Linked DNA regions of Homo sapiens: region 1 is linked to region 2. The links come from fine-mapping of genetic effects on gene expression. A gene starts in region 2. The other region holds a variant in brackets. All regions are shown on one strand. Distances are from middle to middle.

What was found.
Region 1: its variant is fine-mapped to the expression of UNC93B1 in whole blood (TOPMed, PIP above 0.99).

The regions. Positions count from the first base shown.
Region 1 is chr11:68,131,315-68,134,215 of GRCh38, forward strand. No RefSeq gene overlaps it. Among named protein-coding and RNA genes, the nearest start is that of CHKA-DT, 11 kb to the left of the region's middle. The variant G/A (reference allele first, on the strand shown) is at 1,706.
Region 2 is chr11:68,002,616-68,005,470 of GRCh38, forward strand. UNC93B1 (unc-93B1 regulator of TLR signaling) reads right to left here and starts at 1,482. Exons shown (of 11, transcript NM_030930.4): 1 at 1,333-1,482; 2 at 1,042-1,183; 3 at 407-560. The coding sequence starts at 1,428. RefSeq lists enhancers at 35-234, 335-384, 485-534, 1,439-1,982, 1,983-2,525 and silencers at 835-1,244, 1,305-1,604.

The DNA of each region.
Region 1 (2,901 bases), 130 kb after region 2:
GCAACACAGCGAGACTCCATGTCAAAAACAACAAACAAACGAACAAAAAGAATTGTGGAATGCTGCTCATCCATAAAATGCTAATATCTAATGGGCATTTCAGGATTTCTTGCTTTCTAGATTTATATAAAATGTGCCAAAGATGTGTTCTTATTGAGAAAAAGAAGAATTTTGTCTAATTCAGAAGTTATCTGCCCAGACGCAGTGGCTCATGCCTGTAAACCCAGCACTTTGGGAGGCCAAGTTGGGTGGATTACTTCAGGTCAGGAGTTCAAGACCAGCCTGGCCAACATGGTGAAACACATCTCTACTAAAAATACCAAAAAAAAAAAGTTATCTAAAAGTCAATTCAAATTATGGAGTTAAAAGTGGTTCTTGGCCAGACGCAGTGGCTCACACCTGTAATCCCAGCACTTTGGGAGGCCAAGGCAGGTGGATCACCTGAGGTCAGGAGTTTGAGACCAGCCTGAGCAACATGGTGAAACCCCATCTCTACTAAAAATACAAAAATTAGCTGGGTGTGGTGGTGGGCGCCTGTAATTCCAGCTACTCAGGAGGCTGAGGCAGGAGAATCTCTTGAACTGGGGAGGCAGAGGTTGCAGTGAGCTGAGATCATGCCATTGCACTCCAGCCTGGGCGACAAGAGTGAAACTCCATCTCAAAAAAAAAAAAAAAAAAAGGTCCTTAAACAAGGTTGAAAGAAACCATTAAGTAGGGGAGAGAGAGATGTGAAAAAAATTATGGATACAAAGATGTATTTTTGGCAAAGAAGCTTATAAAGAAAAGACAATACCTTTATATGAGAAAGGATCTTGTATGGAAAATTATTGTCCTAGAGTAGAATGACTGGTTATTTAAGAAAGAGGAAGGCCAGATGTGGTGGCTCACACCTGTAATCCCAAAACTTTGGGAGGCTGAGGCAGGGGGATCATTTGAGCTCAGGAGTTTGAGACCAGCCTGGGGAACATGGTGAAACACTGTCTCCCCAAAAATATAAAACTTAGCTGGGCATGGCAGCATGTGCCTGTAGTCCCAGGTACTCGGGAGGCTAAGGTGGGAAGATTGCTTAAGCCGAGGAGATTCAGGCTGCAGTGAGCCAAGATTGTGCCACTGCATTTCATCCTGAGCAACAGAACAAGACCCTGTCTTTAAAAAAGGAAAGAAAGAAGGAAGGAAAGAAGGAAGGAAGGAAGGAGAGAGAGGGAGAGAGAGAGGAAGGAAGGAAGGAAGGAGGGAGGGAGGGAGGGATGGAGGGAGGGAGGGAGAGAGAGAGAAGGAAGGAAGGAAAGGAAGGAAGGAAGACAGAGAGAAGCTGGGTGTGGTGGCTCATGCCTGTAATCCCAGCACTTTGGGAGGCTGAGGCGGGTGGATCACCTGAGGTCGGGAGTTCGAGACCAGCCTGACCAACATGGAGAAACCCCGTCTCTACTAAAAATTCAAAATTAGCTGGGCATGGTGGCACAGACCTGTAATCCCAGCTACTAGAGAGGCTGAGGCAGGAGAATTGCTTGAACCTGGGAGGCGGAGGTTGTGGTGAGCTGAGATCACACCATTGCACTCCATCCTGGGCAACAAGAGCAAAACTCCATCTCAAAAAAAAAAAAAGAAAGAGAAAATGAAGAAAGAGAGAAATAGTCTAGGACAAGTCAGAAAGTCCAAGCAGGACATAGATGGTTTGTGTAAGTTGTGATAAGATTTGTAAAGG[G/A]GAGGCCGGGCGCGGTGGCTCAGGCCTGTAATCCCAGCACTTTGGGAGGCCGAGGCGGGCGGATCACGAGGTCAGGAGATGGAGACCATCCCGGCTAAAACGGTGAAACCCTGTCTCTACTAAAAATACAAAAAATTAGCCGGGCGTAGTGGCGGGCGCCTGTAGTCCCAGCTACTTGGGAGGCTGAGGCAGGAGAATGGCGTGAACCCGGGAGGCGGAGCTTGCAGTGAGCCGAGATCCCGCCACTGCACTCCAGCCTGGGCGACAGAGCGAGACTCCGTCTCAAAAAAAAAAAAAAAAAAAAAAAGATTTGTAAAGGGGAATTTACAAAAACAGGAATTTTGTTTGTGATTAAGTTAGCTGCGATTAAAAGGAGATTATTTCTCCTTTCTAAGGAATGGTCCCCTATGTTAAAAGAAGGTCTGCTTAAGGTATTGATTTGCTCTTAATGAAATTATAAGAAATTTTGCTTTTCAATTTTTTGTTTGTTAGTTTTGAGATGGAGTCTCGCTCTGTCGCCCAGACTGGAGTGCGGTGGCGTGATCTCAGCTCACCGCAAGCTCCACCTCCCAGGGTCACTCCAGCCTGGGCAACAGAGCGAGACTCTGTCTAAAAAAAAAAAAAAAAAGGGATGAATGAGTGCCTGTCCACCTCCATTTCATCTGGCCTAGCATATTTAACTGTCTACACGTCTTTTGATTCTAAGTCTCTTGGCCACAGCGGTCCCACTTAGGGACATAATATAGCCAGGGCAGGTAGCACACCACCCTGGCATCGATATGGGGCACAATAAAAGCTTGGCCATGATACTGCCTCTGGCATACCATGACCAGAAAAAAAAAAAAAAAAAAAAAAAAAAACACATGCACCTGAAAATCTAGTTGAGGCCATGACAGGAAGTGGGTAGGGGGAGGGAGAGTCAGCCAGGCCTCACTATATTTCCTCGCCTTGGAATTCCACACATATTTTCCCTGATGGTACCACCAATTATAATTCTTCTTGTCCCCCTTGGAGGGCCTTAGTCCCTCTACAAACAACAGTGTCTTTCTCAATTCCCATAACTGCTCCCCATAATACTGGTATCACATTAAATTACTACTTTCCCCCCATCCCATTCATGCTTAAACCAAAGCACCCCTTGAATAACACAGGTACTTAACCTTTTTTTTTTTTTTTGAGACACAGTCTTGCTCTGT
Region 2 (2,855 bases):
CAGCACCAGTCACAGCGACTGGGCCAGGCATGGGTGCCTGGACTTTGCTGACCGATCAGAAACCCCTAACTCTACAGCCCCAACCCTGAAGGCCACAGTGGCTCTGGGAGGCCTCCAAGGAGGCCACGAGGAGGGTGCCACGTGAGGCCCAGGCAAGCTGGGAGGGAGCTCAGCCCGTGTGAATCTGTTGCTGGAAACCAAATGTGCCCTGAGGCAAAGTTCCTGTTTCCTTCCCCAAATCCGAGTTTCACCCCCTTCACTCTCAGGCTTCCGGGTAGAAAAAAACCTCTCCCTTGTTCCCTCGCCCCACAAACACCCCGGCAGATGGACACCTCCTGGCCCGCCGGCCTCTGTACCCCTCCGAAATGGGAGTACCGCAGCATCCCACAGGAGCAGCCGCGCCCACCTGATGAGCACAGGTGTGTAGAGCAGGGCGGCGATGGGAGTCACGTTGATGCCCATCAGCATTTTGCTGTCGATGTCGGGCAGCCCCATGTTGCCATACTTCACCTCGCGGTAGGTCTCGTCGTAGTGCAGGATCAGCTGCATCTGCAGGAGGCCTGGGGACAGGACAGAGAGCGGCGTGCAGGGAGCAGCCTAGCTTTGGGCGCCACCGAGCAGAAGACGGCATGCAGGCCTCGCAGGGAGCTCCAATCACCGAAGGCATTCCCGCTGACAGCGCCCCTCAGGACAGCGGGGTTCCCGGGCTGCGCCACGCCTTCTGCCAGCCCGCGGCCACTTGGCCAGCTAAGCCCAGACCCCCACCCGCCTTGCTCCGCCGGCCTCCAATTCTGACGGTGGCAGGTCTGTCCGGGAGCCCGGACCCCCGTCCCCCACCCACACCGAGGCTCTGGCTGGGACCCGGGGACGCTGCGCTACTTGACCCCCCAACCCCACCCCCGCCGCGGGGGGCCGTGGCTGCAGCTGCGAGGGCAGCGGAGGGGAAGTGAGAGCGGGCGGGAGGCGGCGGCCCGCGGTTTCTGTTTCCCGGGCCGGGCTGGGAGCGGGCGGGGCGGCCCCGGGTCCCCGAGCGGCACCTACCCAGGTAGACGCCGTAGGTGAGCATGCCCCCGGCGCTGGCAGCCAGCACGTTCTTGAGCACGCCCAGGCGCTTGCGGCGGTAGTAGCGGCGCTCCTCCTCCTCCTCGTTGTAGTTGGGGTACGCGCCCACCAGCTCGTCCAGCTGCGAGCCACGCACGCCGCTCGCACCCGCGATCGCGCCCCGAACCCGTGTCCCCCGGTGCCCGCCGCCCCCCGGCCCGCCCCGCCCCCGCCGGGGGGACCCTGGCCCACAGGGGACGCCCGCGCCTCGCACTCCGGGTCCCCGCTCACCGGGGCCTCGGGCCCGTCCGGGACCCCGAGCAGGTCCTCGTCGCCCTGCGGCCCCGCAGCCCCCGCCATCGGGTAGAGCGGCGGCTCCGCCTCCATGGCCCGAACTACTGCGGACTCGCGGCGGTCGCCCCGGAGTCCCTGCGACCGCCCGGCCACTTCCTCCCGGCGGCCGGGACCTGCCCCCGCCCCGCCCTGTCCCGCCCTGCGGGCCGCCTCCTCCAGGACACGTGTGTGTGTATGTGTGTGTGCGCGCGCGCGCGCGCGTGTGTGCAGGGGCCTGCCTGTGTGTGCCCTCTGGGGTGTGAGTTCGAATCCCCACTCAGCCACCTCCTGGCCCTGTGACTTTAGGAATTAACTCCATTTCTTTGTGCCTCGGTTTCCTCCGTTTCCTCGACGGTAAAACAGAAATACATGGCACTACCCCCGGGGCCATGGCGGAACTATTGAGTTAATGCAAAGCCTTGGAAAAGTGCCAGGGTTGCCTGGCTCCCTTAAGCTCCCCTCAGGGTTGCCTGGGTCGTCCCCAGCCCCACCTCCAAGCCTGCTGTTACAGCTCATCAAAGAGCACTGCAGGGACAGTAGCGTCACCACCTGGACCCCACCTCCCACCACCGGACGCTACAGCCAGAGCCCACCTCCCATGTCCCCATCCTGCTCCAGTTTGGGCTGTGCAAATGGGAGCTTGAGTGGGTCCTGGGAGGTGGAGATTGTGATCCCCACTGAACTACATGGGGGACCCTGCCACAACCATGTAGTGGGGCCCAGAGCCACCTGCCCCCATCCTGCTGGGCACTGGATCCCGGGCTGCAGCGGGAGCCTGTGGTGGGGCCGACACTCCAAAGCACTGGCTACCACCGACCTGGCTGGAGCCACGGGGCCACTTTTGAAAATATCCAGATTCTCTCCCCTGGGTTCCTTCTGGTTTGAATGCTCTTCCTGCTGCGCCTCCCAGGTGGCTTCCTTCCCACTCAGCTCTCAGAACAAGAGACCATCCCTGCAGAGAATGCAGTCCCTTCACTTCCCTTCTGGTTTTCCATGCCCTCCCTGTGCACCCCCCTCCACCCACTGCTCTTTAGGTACATCCTCTCCCAAATGCAGAGGATGGCATTGGGCACCTACTGAGTGATCAATACTTGTGACTGGATGGGTGCATGAGTGACTGGATGACAAACACCTCCCACCCCGCAAGGATTGCTGGGAAGGTGGGGGGAGGCGTGAATCTGCAGTGGCTTCAGGCTTCCAGGAGGTAGAACTTTCTCCAGGTGACGATGCCCAAGTGCAGATGTGGGGAACAGACAGGTGGATTCATGCAGGTGGGTGGCTGGAAGTGGGAGACAGGAAAGGAGCCGAAGAGAGGGCAGGGCCCGAGGCGCAGGGGCAGGGAGGAGGTGGGAGAGTATGGCTATGGCGGGGGCCGTTCTCAGATGGCAGACACCAGCATCATTACACAGTATGATGAGAAAGTGCAATTCTCCTGACTCAGCCTTGTGAGTAGCTGGAATTACAGGCGTGTGCCCCTACAC